2 separate regions of the Homo sapiens genome follow, and region 2 is linked to region 1. Evidence: fine-mapped expression QTL. A gene starts in region 1. The other region holds a variant in brackets. All regions are shown on one strand. Distances are from middle to middle.

Region 1 (4,381 bases):
CTTCTGTGGTTTTATTTATTTTTTTGGAGACAGAGTCTCACTGTTGTCCAGGCTGGAATACAGTGGCAGGATGGCGCTATCAGAGCTCACTGTGAGCTCACACTCCTGGGCTCCAGCGATCCTCCCACCTCAGGCTCCTGAATGGCTAGGACCACAGATGTGTGCCACCACACCTGGCTAATTTTTGGGTTTTTTACAGATGGCGTCTCACTATGTTCCCCAGGCTGGTCTTGAACTCCTGGCCTCAGGCGATCCTCCTGCCTCGGCCTCCCAAAGTGCTGTGGTTTTAAATGTGCTGTTCTCCTGGGCTTCTTTCTCTTTCCCCTCTTCCTTAACTCACCAATTAAACCACAACAGACACTTTCTGAGGGCAGGGCCACGTCTCCCCTCAGTCTCCATCCCCTGACCTAGCACAAGCCCCGCATCCAGTAAGCATTCAAAACAACACTGAACTCTTCTGCTCCTGCTTCACTCCAGCTGGGTCAAGAGGCCATGGAGATACAGTGTGTCCTGGTCTGAGGGTCCCAGAGCTGAGAACCAGGAAGGAGATGCCTGCCCCCACTGGACACCCTTCCCTGCAGCCCACATCTGAGCTTCCTCAAGTCCTTAAGTCACATTGGCAAGGCAAATGTGATGTCATGGGCTCAGCTGTGGGGCAGTGTGGATCATAGGAGGGCAGGCAGAGCTGGTTCACATACCAAAGAAGGCTGGACTGGGTCAGGAGCTAGAGCTGCTTTCCAATCCCAGGGAACCAGGGCAAAGTGAACCCACTGCCCTCTGTTCCTGATCACCAAGCCCACTGCTGTCACTTGGGACAACTTCTGGTTCCTCTGGCCCCAGAAGGTGCCCCATGGACTTATTTTTCTCCCTGAGTTCCACATCTCAGATGCACACATGTTGCATTACCAGGACATGTCAGTGACATGGCCCTGAGGGTAGGTGGTTTCACACCTGCCTCTTTGGGGCCCCAAGTCTCCTCCCAGCCTGGGAAAACCTCAAGGTCTCCCAGGCTGTTGTGTAAGATAGTAAGGGCTCATGTCACTGCTCCCTGGAAAAACAGAGTGTCTGTCCTGGTTTTCTGATTTAGACATATATATATAAATTTTTTTTTTTTTTCAGACGGAGTCTCGCCGTCGCCCAGGCTAGAGTGCAGTGGTGTGATCTCGGCTCACTGCAGGCTCCGCCCCCTGGGGTTCACACCATTCTCCTGCCTCAGCCTTCCCGCGTAGCTGGGACTACAGGCGCCCGCCACCTCGCCCGGCTAATTTTTTGTATTTTTAGTAGAGACGGGGTTTCATCGTGTTAGCCAGGATGGTCTGGATCTCCTGACCTCGTGATCCGCCCGCCTCGGCCTCCCAAAGTGCTGGGATTACAGGCGTGAGCCACCGCGCCCGGCCGACATAGACATATATTAATAATCATTTAGAGAGTAGGGATAGTCCTTGGGGGTCATTCAGTTCAACCACCTCATTTTACAGATGAGGAAAACTGAGGCCCAGAGGAGAAGGGACTTGTCCAGGATGAGTCTGGGCCAGGACTCATTCTCCTGACCACTGCCGAGAGCGCCACGGTACAGGCCGCTGCCAGCGCCGCATGGATCCCTGGCACGTGCCAGGAAGTGTCCATTTCACAGGCAGGGAACTAGCCCGAAGACCCAGCGTGGGCAGGCCAACGCCCCTAGCCTGATTCTCGAATCTTCGCCAAACCCTCTTACAGGCCAACAGTCGGGGCCTTTGTGAAGGGAAACTCGCTCTGGGTCACTCTGGTGGTGGCGGGGCTGGTACGTGACGCGGCCACCCCACGGGCGTGATGAGACACGCGAGGCTGGCGTCCGGGCATGCGCGGGCCGCGCGGGGCGGCCCTGGGCTCCCATTGGCTCCCCCGGGTCGAAGGGGGCGGGGCCTCGGGCGCCGCGCTTCCTCCCGCCGTGGCTTCCGCGTCGCTTCCCGGTCAGCTGCGTCCTTAGCGGGAGCCCGAGTGCGGGCGGTGGCGGGCTTGGCGGCGGGGCAGGATTCCAGGCAGGAGCCTTGCCTCTCAGGTGGCGGGCTCTGCGACCCTGCGAGGTGAGAGCACAGCGACGTCTGGCCCGGGCCTCCGTCCCCGGCTGGGCGTGCGCCTTGCCCTGCCTGGGCATCCAGGTCGACCCCCGGTTCTTGACCGTAGCAACCCGCACCCCTCCCACCAGCGCCCGGTCTGCACTCTTGGCCCCTCCAGGCAGCGCCGCTCAACCTTGCGGACCCAGCCTGGGATCCCTTACCGTACTCACCGAGAGCTTGAGGAGACCTCCAGCCCCCCATCCCTGGCTCCCGGTAACTGCTGTTTCTCTTTGCCTTTGCAGATGGACGGGACAGAAGGCAGTGCCGGGCAGCCCGGCCCCGCTGAGCGATCCCACCGAAGCAGCGTGTCCTCCGTGGGAGCCCGAGGTGGGTCCCACCCGCATCTCCTCTTCCACACCCTCCTGGGACCCCAGCCCTGGAGAAGTAGCTCTGGCTTGTCTTCTTTTTCATTAAAGATAATTTATGTATCGACTAAGAAATAATAAGGTACATTCAGATGTGGAAAACTCACAGAAGTCAGAGGCTCTGTCACTAGTTTACTGGCCAGGTTGGGTCCTCGCTCTCATTTGTAAAATGAGCTTGTTTAACATAGCTGTGAAATTCAAATGAGATTATATGAATGAAAAGTGAAGGCTGATGTGGTTCATGCTTGTAATCCCAGAACTTTGGGAGGCCAAGGTGGGCAGACCACATGTGCCCAGGAGTTCGAGACCAGCCTGGGCAACATAGACAAAAAAGAAAGTGACACGTTCACTTTCTTTGTGTCATTTCTTTTTTTCTTTCTTTCCTTTCTTTCTTTCTTTGACAGAGTCTCCCTCTGTCGCCCAGGCTGGAGTGCAGTGGTGCGATCTCAGCTCACTGCAAGCCCCGCCTTCGGGGTTCACGCCATTCTCCTGCCTCAGCCTCCCGAGTAGCTAGGACTACAGGCGCCCGCCACCACGCCTGGCTAATTTTTTGCATTTTTAGTAGAGACGGGGTTTCATCGTGTTAGCCAGGATGGTCTCGATCTCCTGACCTCGTGATCTGCCTGCCTCAGCCTCTCAAAGTGCTGGGATTACAGGCGTGAGCCACCACACCCGGCTGTGTCCTTTCTTTCTCCCAAACAGCCTTTTGAAAGCAGGGATCAGGCTGGGCGTAGTAGCTCACACCTGTAATCCCAGCACTTTGGGAGGCCGAGGCGGGTGGATCACTTGAAGTTGAGAATTCCAAGAGCAGCCTGACCAACATGGAGAAACCCCTGTCTCTACTAAAAATGCAAATTAGCTGGGCGTGGTGGCACATGCCTGTAATCCCAGCTACTCAGGAGGCTGAGGCAGGAGAATGACTTGAACCTGAGAGGCGGAGGTTGCGGTGAGCTGAGCTCGCACCATTGCACTCCAGCCTGGGCAACGAGGGTGAAACTCCGTCTCAAAAAAAAAAAAAAACAGGGATCATATCATGATCTTCATTTGATAGGGAGGAAACTGGGCCCTAGGGAGGTTAAGTCCCAGGCAGGCTGTGGAAGCTCTCCAGGTGATTACATACTGCAGCTTCTGGTGCCTCAGTTCTTGCCTGAGAAGTAGATCTGAACCTGAGCCTCCTCGAAGTGATTTTGTGATCTCTGAGAGTAGCTGCTGGAGCATAACAGACTGGGGGTCCGAGGAGCACCTTCTCTTGTGTAGATGAGAAACCGTGCCCTTCCCTTCCACACACTCTTGGAGGGAGGAGTATTAGCTCTACTTTTACAGATGAGGCAACTGACAACTTAAATTGACTCCCTGAAGTTGGCCAGCGACCAGGCAAGGATGGGAACCCGAGTATGTCGGCCCCAAACTCCAGTGTTCCTTCACCATGCCTGCAGTCTCAGGGATGGGGATTTGAATCTGGTTGCTCTTCCAGGTGTCTCCATTTGGCTCTGGAACCCACAAGTTGTCACAAGGGAACTCTCAGCTATTTGGGCTGTTCTTCCCTAGCCTGCTTCGTATTGACTCCTGAGGCTTAAAGAGTCCTCAGACTTAAAGAGTCCCAAGGAAGCTGAGACCTGGAACTTGCTTTAACCTGGGTGACCTAAAGAATTATCTCTTCGCATCTTAGCCTCAGTCAGAGAGAGACTTGCCTAAGGACAGCAGCGGGTTACCAGCTCTCGCTCCTGCCAGCCAGCCAGACTAACTGCCATAGCCTCAGGATGGTTTCAGCCTCTCTATGCTGTGGTTTCAGCCTCTCTGTGCTGTAGTTTCACATCTGTGGCATGTTCTTGTTCAGGGCAGAAGAACAGTTGAATCCTTGGGGCAGCTATGGTGGTGAGGGGCAGGTTTGCAATGGCCAGGCTTAATTTGAATCTTGGG
Region 2 (4,381 bases), 64 kb before region 1:
TAACATGGTGAAACCCTGTCTCTACTAAAAAAAAATGCAAAAATTAGCCAGGCATGGTGACACGTGCCTGTAGTCCCAGCTACTCAGGAGGCTGAGGCAGAAGAATTGCTTGAACCTGGGAGGTGGAGGCTGCAGTGAGCTGAGATTGCGCCACTGCACTCCAGCCTGGGTGACACAGTGAGACTCCATCTTAAAAATAAAAAAGATGTTTGCATCTGACCTTGGTCCCGCTGTCTCTGACAGGTGTGCACCCTTTGTGTTTCAGCTCCTCAGCCCTGGACCGGGGACAAGTAACCCTCGGTGACAAGACCAAAGTGCACTGCTGCCCACACAGTTCCTACCTTTCTGGCTTCAATTCTTCAGAAGAGTTTGCCGTCCTTTGGGGAGAACGTGATTTTTGTTATCTCAGCCCACTGACTTCATTGATCTCTAATCTTTTTTAATTCCTTGGGCCAACTTTGTTCGTGCCCCCACACTGTAGCCAGAAGCCCGTTGGCGAGCTCTGGCACCTGCAAACCACCCCGTGGAACGAGTGTTTCCTCTGGCTGAGGGTTGGAGAGGAGGTGTGGTCTCAGCAGGCGGCCCGTAGCCTCACAGCCAGGCCTGGTGGTGAGGTCACCATGTCCACCAAGGTGCCCATCTATCTGAAGCGTGGCAGTCGCAAGGGCAAGAAGGAGAAGCTTCGGGACCTGCTGTCCTCGGACATGATCAGCCCACCGCTGGGGGACTTCCGCCACACCATTCATATTGGCAGTGGCGGCGGCAGTGACATGTTTGGCGACATCTCCTTCCTGCAGGGCAAGTTCCACCTCCTGCCGGGGACCATGGTGGAGGGGCCTGAAGAAGATGGCACCTTCGACCTCCCCTTCCAGTTCACCCGCACCGCCACCGTGTGTGGGCGGGAGCTCCCGGACGGCCCATCCCCTCTGCTCAAGAACGCCATCTCCCTCCCGGTTATCGGTGGACCCCAGGCTCTCACCCTGCCCACAGCCCAGGCTCCACCCAAGCCCCCTCGCCTGCACCTGGAGACCCCTCAGCCTTCCCCACAGGAGGGAGGGAGTGTGGACATCTGGAGGATTCCAGAGACTGGCTCCCCCAACAGTGGACTGACCCCGGAGTCAGGGGCCGAGGAGCCCTTCCTGTCCAATGCCAGCTCCCTGCTGTCCCTGCACGTGGACCTGGGGCCTTCCATCCTGGATGATGTCCTGCAGATCATGGATCAGGACCTGGACAGCATGCAGATCCCCACATAGGACACGAGGCTGCCTAGGCTGGGGTCCCAGGTGGGGCCCAGCCAGGAGGTGGGGTGTGGACCCGGCCCTGGCGGCGGAGTCAGGGTCCCAAGATCCCACCTGTATGGTCGCTGGCCAGTGATTCTCCTTCTGAGCCGTGTTTCCCCTCTCCCTCCCTCTCCACGTGGGCAGGGCAGGCCCCATCGCTTTCCTCTGATAACCACATGGACACATCCTGAAGTCAGCCCAGGCGCCCTGAGCATCTTGGGGCACCTGGACCCCATCACAATACTCCTTCTTCCTTCAGGTCCCTGGGTGAAGGCTTTGCTGAAACCGACCCCCCTTTTCACGTCCCTTCTGCCTCTGCCCCGTTGGATGCCCTGACTGGGGGCAGGGGAAGAGACAGGGCACAGCTGGCCACAGGGCTCAGCCACTGAGCAGGCTGTTCCGGGCCTTTGGCTTTGCATCCTGGACGGGGAGTGTCCTGTCAGGGACCAGATGTGTCCTGCCTCATCCCTAGCTCCAATCCCTTCCCCACGTGACCGGGGATTCTGGTTGCAATAAAACATGCTGCTGCTGGTGGCGGAGCTCCCTGTCCCTTTGCCCCAGGTTTCCTCCCGGAGGCAGACAGTCTCCCAGAGCTGAGGGCTTGCCTCTGGAGACCCCAGCCCCAGAGGGCTTTGTGGAGGACAGGCCTTGCCCTCAAGAACGTCGTACCTGACGCTGAGCCTGTCATGAGAATGCAACAGGAGCAAACCAAGTGTTGCTGTGACATTGATTCAGATGTTTGGCAAGAGGTGGCTGAGCACT[G/C]GGGTGGGCTTGGCACTGTGCCAAGCCTGGGGCCAATCCCTGCCCAGTCAGCTGGGGTCTGGTGGGGGACACCCAAGAATAAAAGAATAACCACAAAGTGTGCAAGGGACCAACAGCTTCTCCAGCTTAAGAGCACCGAGGGAGCATGCAGGAGGGATGCTTGGAGCTGGGAGGGTCTAACAGTGCTGCTTCAAGATTCATTCCATCCACGGCTGTTTACTGAGCATCTCCAGTATACAAGGCACGGCTCCGGGTGCTGGGGATACAAGGCAGACGCCATCCCTGCTCTCTAAGAGTTTAAATTCTAGTTGGAAGGGGGATATTAAATTGGTAAACAAATAAGAGATGATTTCCAGCAGTGGTAAAGGCTACGAAGAAAACAACGTGATCAGGAATGCCTAGCAGGGAGGTCAGGGAGTGTCAGGGCTCATTAATGTGATCAGATGTGATTCTGAGCCAAATCGGAGCTACCAGCCAGATAACTCATATGTAAGCACAGGCACTGAGGAACCAGAGTGAAGACAGAGCAGACACCACACAGCAAAAGAGCGTGGACCTCCGAGTTGCACCTGGCCTGAGACTCAGTTTCCCCATCTCTAAAATGGAGCAGGCCAGGCATGGTGGCTCACACCTGTAACCCCAGCACTTTGGGAGGCCAAGGTGGGTGGATCATGAGGTCAGGAGATCGAGACCATCCTGGCCAACATGGTGAAACCCCGTCTCTACTAAAAATACAAAAATTAGCTGGGCATGGTGGCACGTGCCTGTAATCCTAGCTACTAGGGAGGCTGAGGCAGGAGAATCACTTGAACCCGGAAGCTGGAGGTTGCGGTGAGCCGAGATTGCGCTACTCCACTCCAGCCTTGGTGACAGAGTGAGACTCTATCTCAAAAAAAAAAAAAAAAAAAAAAGAGCCACTGATAGCTACCTCACAGGGTTATTGAGAAAACTAGGGATAACATTTATACTAGCCACAGGGAAGGGTTTTTTGTTGTTGTTGTTGTTGTTTTGTTTTGTTTTGTTTTTTTCTGTTGAGACGGAGTCTCACTCTGTTGCTCAGGCCGGAGTGCAATGGCACAGTCTCAGCTAACTAAACTCTGCCTCCCGGGTTCAAGCTACTCTCCTGCCTCAGCCTTCCAGGTAGCTTGGATTACAGGTGCACGCCACCATGCCTGGCTAATTTTTTGTTTTGTTGTCTATTTGTTTGTTTTTTTGTGTGTGACAGAGTCTCACTCTGTCACCTGGGCTAGAGTGCAGTGGCACAATCTCGGCTCACTGCAACCTCCGCTTCCCAGATTCAAGCAATTCTTCTGCCTCAGCCTCTCGAGTAGCTGGGATTGCAGATGCCTGCCACTGCTCCCAGCTAATTTTGTGTATTTTTAGTAGAGACGGGGTTTCACCATGTTGGCCAGGCTGGTCTCGAACTTCTGACCCCAGTTGATCCGCCCGCCTCAGCCTCCCAAAGTGCTGGTATTACAGGCATGAGCCACCATGCCCGTCCAGGAAAGGTGTTACAAATGGTTGCAGTGTGTGATGAAGGAAAGAACTGGGGCTCGGGAAGGGCGGGACTGTGAAGCTGGAACACAGGCTGGCGGCAGCAGGGAAGAGTTTCGCTGGCCAGGCTGACGCTGAGGCGATGGGGTGCTGCTGAAGGACGTGAAAGCAGAAGAGATAGGTGGTCAGATCTAGACCTGAGGAACGACATCACCCACGCCAGGTCGGGGATGGAGGTAGCCATGGCAGGCATGAGCAGGAGGACTGGACCCAGGTGAGGATGGTGGAGACAGAGAGGAGGGGAGTGGCCTAAGGTGGGGCCCGGTGGCCCCTTCTTCCACCCTCAGCCAGTTCTTTTCTACCTGTGTGACCTTGGAATCCCAGACACCCACCACTCCCCCAGCCTTTCACAAACATTACACAGTGTGTGTGTGTGTGTGTGTGTGTGTGTGTGTGTGTGTGTGTGTGTGAGAATGCATTTTTTTATTATTTCTGGACATTTTATTTATTTATTTATTTATTTCGAGACGGAGTCTTGCTCTGTCGCCCAGGCTAGAGTGCAGTGGCACGATCTCAGCTCACTACAACCTCCGCCTCCCAGGTTCAAGCGATTCTCCTGCCTCAGCCTCCCGAGTAGCTGGGATTACAGGTGCCTGCCACCATGCCCGGCTAATTATTTTTGTTTTTGTTTTGAGATGGAGTCTTGCTCTGGTGCCAGGCTGGAGTGCAGTGGCACGATCTGAGCTCACTGCAATCTCCGCCTCCCGGGTTCAAGCGATTCCCCTGCCTCAGCCTCCCGAGTAGTTGAGACTACAGGCATGCACCACCACGCCCAGTTAATTTTT

What was found. PIP is the estimated chance that this variant, and not a neighbour inherited with it, causes the effect.
Region 2: its variant is the best candidate, but not a certain one, in a credible set for the expression of FRMD8 in whole blood (TOPMed, PIP 0.52).

What each region holds. Positions count from the first base shown.
Region 1 is chr11:65,384,699-65,389,079 of GRCh38, forward strand. FRMD8 (FERM domain containing 8) reads left to right here and starts at 1,939. Exons shown (of 11, transcript NM_031904.5): 1 at 1,939-2,063; 2 at 2,339-2,423. The coding sequence starts at 2,339. RefSeq lists enhancers at 1,655-2,243, 4,283-4,381 and a silencer at 1,746-2,325.
Region 2 is chr11:65,320,279-65,324,659 of GRCh38, forward strand. CDC42EP2 (CDC42 effector protein 2) reads left to right here. Exons shown (of 2, transcript NM_006779.4): 2 at 266-2,139. The coding sequence starts at 621. The coding sequence ends at 1,253. LOC124902691 (a long non-coding RNA gene) reads left to right here and starts at 3,467. Exons shown (of 2, transcript XR_007062728.1): 1 at 3,467-3,810. The variant G/C (reference allele first, on the strand shown) is at 2,043.